2 linked regions of the Homo sapiens genome follow. The protein of the gene in region 2 purifies or fractionates together with the protein of the main gene of each other region. This does not show direct contact. Each region holds a gene or a part of one and is shown on either strand. Other genes may lie near its edges. The genes, in order: EIF4E and YTHDF2.

Evidence for each region.
Region 1: the proteins of YTHDF2 (region 2) and EIF4E purify together in Homo sapiens (affinity purification with western blotting, with the first as the bait; one study listed by BioGRID). This does not show direct contact.

The regions. Positions count from the first base shown.
Region 1 is NC_000004.12:98,922,506-98,926,326, reverse strand, and holds part of EIF4E (eukaryotic translation initiation factor 4E), read left to right. Parts: intron 1-3,821. UniProt on the Homo sapiens protein: Acts in the cytoplasm to initiate and regulate protein synthesis and is required in the nucleus for export of a subset of mRNAs from the nucleus to the cytoplasm which promotes processes such as RNA capping, processing and splicing.
Region 2 is NC_000001.11:28,760,637-28,764,457, forward strand, and holds part of YTHDF2 (YTH domain-containing family protein 2), read left to right. Parts: intron 1-3,821. UniProt on the Homo sapiens protein: Specifically recognizes and binds N6-methyladenosine (m6A)-containing RNAs, and regulates their stability. M6A is a modification present at internal sites of mRNAs and some non-coding RNAs and plays a role in mRNA stability and processing.

The sequences.
Region 1 (3,821 bases), on a different chromosome or scaffold from region 2:
AGGTGATCCGCCCGTCTTGGCCTCCCAAAGTGGTGGGATTACAGGCATGAGCCACCGCGCCTGGCCTGAAAATTTTTAGTACTTTTAATATACCCTTGTGCACAGGCTAGTTATGTGGAATTATTTTTGACAGTTTTAAATAGTTGGATTTTGTGTGTAGGGGTGCAGGATCTTGCTCTGTTGCTGGGGCTGGAGTGCAGTGGCGCGATCATAGCTCACTGCAGCCTCAAACTCCTGGGCTCAAGAGATGCTTCCATCTCAGCCTCTGGTGTAGCAAGCACTACAGGAGCAGGCCACCACGCCCGGATAATTTTTAAACTTTTTGTAGAGATGGAATCTCGCGATGGTTACCCAGGCTGGTCTCAAACTCCTGGACTCAAGTGGTCCTCCCACCTTGGCCTCTCAATATGTTGGGTTACAGGCGTGAGCCACCGAGCCTCGCCTGGATTTTTTTTTGAAGCAACTGATTAGAATTGGATTGTACTTGAGATACCCCTGCTGAAGGCTGCAAAAATCATGTTTTTTCTTACTTCAGCTAGTTTGTGAGCTTCCATAATGGTTTTCTGCTGTGCATAATCATAAACACTTAAAAAGAGCCATGGGCTTTTCCTGCTTATCCCATCATGCATAGGTATCTGGATGATTTTTGTCTATGGACATTACATAAAATATCATTTTCAGTTTGATATTATTGTGTGGTTTTCTCTTTGTATGAGTTGAGTTACATGAAGATGTGGCCCACAAATATTAAATTTGTTGAGAAGCTTGAAAGGGAAAATTAAGGGAAACATTTTACCTCTTAACGGATAATTTGGCAAAAATTTGAACGTTAGGGCAAACGGTACTCTGATGTTATTCTATCGGCATTTGAATTGTGGCTGGGTCAAAATTAGGTTTAATATTAGTCTGTGAAAATGGCAAGGCCATCTTACCTCCAGTAGGTCGTGTTTCTTTGTAGCTTTATCTTCATTCTACATCGTTCATTATTAGAATTAAAAAAATTTTTTTTTGACTTGTAGTTCCTTTTGAGGTAAGAGATTAATTTTGATTTCTTTAGCTTAACTGAAAGTGTATAATTTTACTTGTTTTTACATTGTAGCTCTTGAATTTTTTGAAACCACGCTAATTTCATAAGTGAATCAACTTGGACAATCAGCTAATTTAATGCTTCCTTTTTTATACTTTGGAAACATGCTCTGTACTACACAGCTTATTAATAAGAGTAAATAAGGTTTATATACATATTGACAAATATTTGTTGTACTATATAATTCATATTAATGAACAATTGAATGCCAACCAGACTATGCAAATTAGTGGACTTTTTGCTTAATGAAAGAACCCACTATATCAGAGTTCCTCGATAATCCACGTAAATTTGGCTCTGGGGTTCATATTCCAGATTTCTTCAATTAAAAGAAAAAAATATACTTGCTGAGTGCGGTGGCTCACGCCTGTAATCTCAGCACTTTGGGAGGCCGAGGCGGGTGGGGATCACTTGAGGTCAGGTGTTCGAGACCAGCCTGGCCAAAATGGTGAAACCCTGTCTCTACTAAAAATACAAAAATTAGCCAGGCCTGGTGGCAGGCGCCTGTAATCCCAGCTACTGGGGAGGCCAAGGCAGGAGAATCGCTTGAACCTGGAGGTGGAGGTTGCAGTGAACCGAGATGGTACCACTGTACTTCAGCCTGGGCGACAGAGCAAGACTCCATCAAAAAGAATAAAAAAAAAAACAGAAACAAATTTCACACTTCATTTTATAATCTGAGTTAATGAGCATGATTATTAGACTTAGAGAAATTCAATGTAGACACACAGTTTATACACAGAAGTTGCAGAGGGATAATATGCAAAATGAATTATGTAAGCTTACTCTAGTTTGGACAGAAAACTGTAGGCAAAAAACATTTAAGTAAAATATTGTTTAATTTACATAAAGTTAAGAATATGGGCCGGGTGCGGTGGCTCATGCCTGTAATCCCAGCACTTTGGGAGGCCGAGGTGGGTAGATCACCAGGTCAGTAGTTTGAGACCAGCCTGATCAACATGGTGAAACCCCACCTCTACTAAAAATACAAAACTTAGCTGGGCGTGGTGATGCGTGCTTGTAATCCCAAGGTACTCAGGAGGCTGAGGCAGGAGAAGCTCTTGAACCTGGGAGGCGGAGGTTGTAGTGAGCTGAGATTGTGCCACTGCACTCCAACCTGGGTGACAGAGCGAGACTCCGTCTCAAAAAAAAAAAAAATAAACAAAAGAAGTTTCCTTAATCTATTAGTACCGGTGAGTTGCACCATCTTAGTCATAGAGACTTTTTTGAGAAGTGGAAATGAGCATGGGTTATAGTCTCATCTTAATATCTGAGTGATCTTGAAGACTGAAATTTCTAAGTCAGCTGAAAGTCGGAATAAGATATATTACGGTGATTTCAATTTTTAAATGCAGTATTCAAAGGTGACAGTTTGTCAACTGTAAGGGACTAAAGTTGACATTCCATGAATGTTTTATACTCATGTATATCCATGCATTTACATACTATTTTCCCTCTTTTCTTGGAAATTCACATTGCTGCTTTTTAATTATCAATCCTTAGCCATTAGCAAGAAATGCAAAGCCTGTGATTCACAATCCTAAGATGTTCTTCCCACTCCTATCCCTACCATAAAAATCACTAGTGTTCCTTCAAAAGTCCCTAATCATGTCTCCAGAAAAAGAAAGGGGCTGGGCTTGGTGGCCCACACATGTAATCCGAGGCTTTGGGAGACAAAGGCAGGAGGATCACTTGAGCCCGGAGTTTGAGACCAGCCTGGCCAACATGGCGAGACCCTGTCTCTCCAAAAAATTAAAAAATTAGCTGAATATGGTGGTGCACACCTGTGTCCTAGCCTCAGGAGGCTGAAATGGGAGGATCCCCTGAGCCTGGGAGGTCAGAGCTGCAGTGAGCTGTGATCACACCACTGCATTCCAGCCTGGGTGACAGAAAGAGACCCTATCTCACCAAAAAAAAAAAGAAAAAGAAAATGATTTTGCGTGTGTGTGTGTGTGTCTAAAATACTAATAGTCATTTCTGGGCACTTCTGGAACCTGAGAATGTGGTCAGAAATATAAGGGGTTTTTTTTTTTTTGTTTCCCCAGTTGGAACTTTTGATACATTATTCCATAGAAACAGTAGGAAAATGGGCCGGGCGTGGTGGCTCACGCCTGTAATCCCGACACTTTGGGAGGCTGAGGTGGGCGGATCACCTGAGGTCGGGAGTTCGAGACCAGCCTGACCAGCATGGAGAAACCCTGTCTCTACTTAACAAAATTACAAAATTAGCTGGGTATGGTGGCACATGCCTGTAACCCCAGCTTCTTGGGAGGCTGAGGCAGAAGAATCGTTTGAACCTGGGAGGTGGAGGTTGCGGTGAGCCTATGTCTGCCATCGCACTCCAGCCTGGGCAACAAGACTGAAACTCCTTCTCAAAAAAAAAAAAAAAGAAAAAAGAAAAAACAGGAAAATGAAGTTTAGTCACACTATATTCAGTAAATTTTTGTGGAATCATTACAAATCTAACCAGCATTGGATTTATAGGGATATGGAATTAAGGATATGGATTTATAGTTGTAAGCAACTAACTAAAAAAACCTTATAAACATACCTTGTTTGTAACAGCTATTTTTAATGTAGAAAGATCGTTATTTGTAATTGCTACACATAGCACTTATTCTATGTTAAGTACCACACTGAATGCTTTACATATATTAACTCATTTATTTCTTTTTTTTTTTTTTTTGAGACAGCGTCTCACTGTTGTCCCAGCTAGAGTACAGTGGCGCGATCT
Region 2 (3,821 bases):
GTGTGATTTTGGCTGCTTACTGCAGCCTCCACCTCCCAGGTTCAAACGATTCTCCTCCCTCAGCCTCCCAAGTAGCTGGGACTACAGCCGCGTGCCACTACACCCAGCTGATTTTGTATTTATGGTAGAGACAGGGTTTCACCATGTTGGCCATGCTGGTCTCAAACTCCTGATCTCAGGTGATCCGCCTGCCTCTGCCTCCCAAAGTGCTGGAATTACAGGTGTGAACCACTGCGCCTGGCCGAATTTGTTATTAAGTATTATTTATTATACATAATTTTACGTGCTATAGTTTTATACGACTTGCAGTGCGGTAGGTTTGTTTACACCGCATTACCACAAACAAGTGAGTAATGTTTTGTGCTACATCCTTACAGTGGCTTCGACATCGCTAGGTGATAGGAATTTGTCAGCTCCATTATAATCTTACTGATCTGTCATTGACTGAAATGTCATTATATCGTGCATGAGTGTGTGTGTGTGTGTGTGTGTGTATTTTTTTTTTTTTTTTTTTTTGAGAGAAGGCCTCACTTTGTCACCCAGGCTGGAGTGTAGTGGCCTGATCACAACTCATTGCAGCTTTGACCTCCTGGGCTTAAGCATACTTTTTCTTGCAGCCTTCTAAGTAGCTGGGACCACACAGGTGTTCGCCACTATGCCTGGCTAATTAAAAAAACTTTTTGGAGAGATAAGGTTTCACTGTGTTGCCCAGGCTGTTCTTGAATTCCTGGGCTTAAGTGATCCTCCTCCTTTGGCCTCTCAAATTGTTAGGATTCCAGGTGTGAGCCACCATGCCTGGCCTAATGTTTAAAAATTTCTGGCTGGTGCGGTGGCCCATGCCTGTAATCCCAGCACATAACGGAGGCCAAGGCAGGTGGATCACCTGAGGTTGGGAGTTCGAGACCATCCTGACCAACATGGAGAAACCCCGTCTCTACTAAAAATACAAAATTAGCTGGGCATGGTGGCGCACGCATGTAATCCCAGCTACTCAGGAGGCTGAGGCAGAAGAATCGCTTGAACCCGGGAAGTGGAGGTTGCGGTGAGCCGAGATTGCGCCATTGCATTCCAGGCAACAAGAGCGAAACTCTGTCTCAAATTCTAGTAGAGTCAGGTTCTCAGTATGTTGCCCAGGCTGGTCTCAAACTGCTGGTCCCAGCCTCCCAAAGTGCTGGGCTTGTAGGCAGGAGGTACCATGGCCAAAATAGATATTTTTAATAAAATATTATAGCCTTGCTTTAAATTGGAGAACTGATGAAAAATACTTTGTCTCTTTATCTGGGGGAAGTTAGCATCTTAATTATATATGACTTGATGTTTCATATATATATGACTTGAAGTCTAAAGTCAAGTCATTAGACTTATTTAACTTATTCACGGCATTGGAGACTATAAAGGTTGATTCTATTAAACCATATCAAGCAATGGAAGTAATTTTTGTGTCATCACATCACTTTTAAAAACACATTTTCCTAGCCGGGCGTGGTGGCTCACGCTTGTAATCCCAGCACTTTGGGAGGCTGAGGCGGGCGGATCACGAGGTCAGGAGATCGAGACCATCCTGGCTAACACGGTGAAACCCCGTCTCTACTAAAAATACAAAAAATTAGCCGGGCATGGTGGCGGGCACCTGTAGTCCCAGCTACTCGGGAGGCTGAGGCAGGAGAATGGCATGAACCCGGGAGGTGGAGCTTGCAGTGAGTGGAGATTGTGCCACGGCACTCCAGTCTGGGCAACAGAGCGAGACTCTGTCTCAAAGAATTTTAGAATGAGACTCCGTCTCAAAGAATGACTCCCGTCTAAGCATTTTATATTGTCAGCTGGGGTGCTGAACTTTGGGTTTCTTTCAAGGTTCATGGGGGCATAGGAAAAACTAGTTGAGAGCTATATAGATTTAATTTTGTGGGAGAGATAAACATTTACCAGATTTTAATGTTAATAAAATTATATCCAGGTGAATATGAATATGCCTCAGTTGTGTTTTATGGCCCACTTGAAAGTGAAGGGAGAGGGAGGGATAGAACAGTGCAGTAGTAAGTAGAAAGGTTATTAAGCTTAAATAGAGGGAAGCTAAATAGGCAGATTTACTGTTTTTGAATATTATATGAAGAGATTGCATATGTGCAGACTTTAACATTGCCACCTTATGGCTTTTTGTATATTTCCTCCAGAGACTGAATTTTCTATTTTATTTTATTTTATTTTTAATTTTTATTTTTGAGACAGAATCTAGCTCTGTTGGCTAGGCTGGAGTGCAGTGGCGCGATCTTGGCTCACCCGGGTTCAAGTGATTGATTCTCCTGCCTCAGCCTCCTGAATAGCTGGGACTACAGGCATGTGCCACCACGCTTGGCTAATTTTTGTATTTTTAGTAGAGATGGGGTTTCACAATGTTGGCCAGCCCTGTCTTGAGCTACTGACCTCAAGTGATCCACCTGCCTCGGCCTCCCAAAGTGCTGGCATTACAGGCATGAGCCACTGCACCCAGCCGAGTTTTCTATTTTGTAATCATAGATTTAAAGTGAGGAGGGCCTAAGGTGGATGGGTGGATAGAGATGTCGACATTATTTCTAGTTATTTAAGCCACAGACCAGATCTGTCTGGACTTGTAGTTTCCTAATTTATTCATAGTTAATATCTTTAATGTTTTTATTTGAGACAGAGTTTTGCTCTTTTGCCCAGGCTGGAGTGAAGTGGCGTGACCTTGGCTCGCTGCAACCTCTGCCCCCTGGGTTCAAACAATTCTCCTGCCTCAGCCTCCTGAGTAGCTGGGATTATAGGTGCCTGACACCAGGGCTGGCTAGTTTTTTATTTATTTTTAATTTTTATTTTTTATTGAGATGGAATCTCCCTCTGTTGCTCAGGCTGGAGTGCAGTGGTGCGATCTCAGCTCAGTGCAACCTCCACCACCCAGGTTCAAGCGATTCTCCTGCCTTAGCCTCCTGAATAGCTGGGACTACAGGTGTGTGCCACCATGCCCAACTAATTTTTTGTATTTTTAGCAGAGATGGGGTTTCACCATGTTAGCCAGGATGGTCTCGATCTCCTGACCTGGTGATCCGCCCACCTCAGCCTCCCAAAGTGCTGGGATCACAGGCGTAAGCCACTGTGCCCAGCCAATTTTTTTTTTTTTTGGGATTATGGGCGTGAGCCACTGAGCCTGGCCGACAATTTATAATTGTATATATTTATGGGGTACAAAGTAATCTTAATTTTTTCAAAGAACCAACTTTTGTTTTTTTTTTTCCTATTATATATACTTTAACTCATGCCAGCTCATATCTTTATTATTATTATTATTTTTTAAATTTATTTATTTTATTTTTTTTTGAGACGGGGTTTCTCTCTTGTTGCCAAGGCTGGAGTGCAGTGGTGTGATCTCGGCTCACTGCAACCTCCATCTCCCAGGTTCAAGCGATTTTCCTGCCTCAGCCTTCCTAGTAGCTGGGATTACAGGCATGTGCCACCACGCCCAGCTAATTTTGTATTTTTAGTAAGAGACGGGGGTTTCTCCATGTTGGTCAGGCTGGTCTCGAACTCCCGACCTCAGGTGATCCGCCCACCTCGGCCTCCCAAAGTGCTGGGATTACAGGCATGAGCCACTGTGCCCGGCCCAATTTTTTATTTTTATTTATTTTTATTTTTATTTTTTTGAGACGGAGTTTTGCTCTGTCACCCAGGCTGGAGTACAGTGGCGCGATCTCAGCTCACTGCATCCCCTGCCTCCTGGATTTAAGCAGTTCTCTGCCTCAGCCTCCCAAATGGCTGGGATTACAGGCGCCCACCACCACGCCCGGCTAATTTTTTTTTTGTTTTTTTTA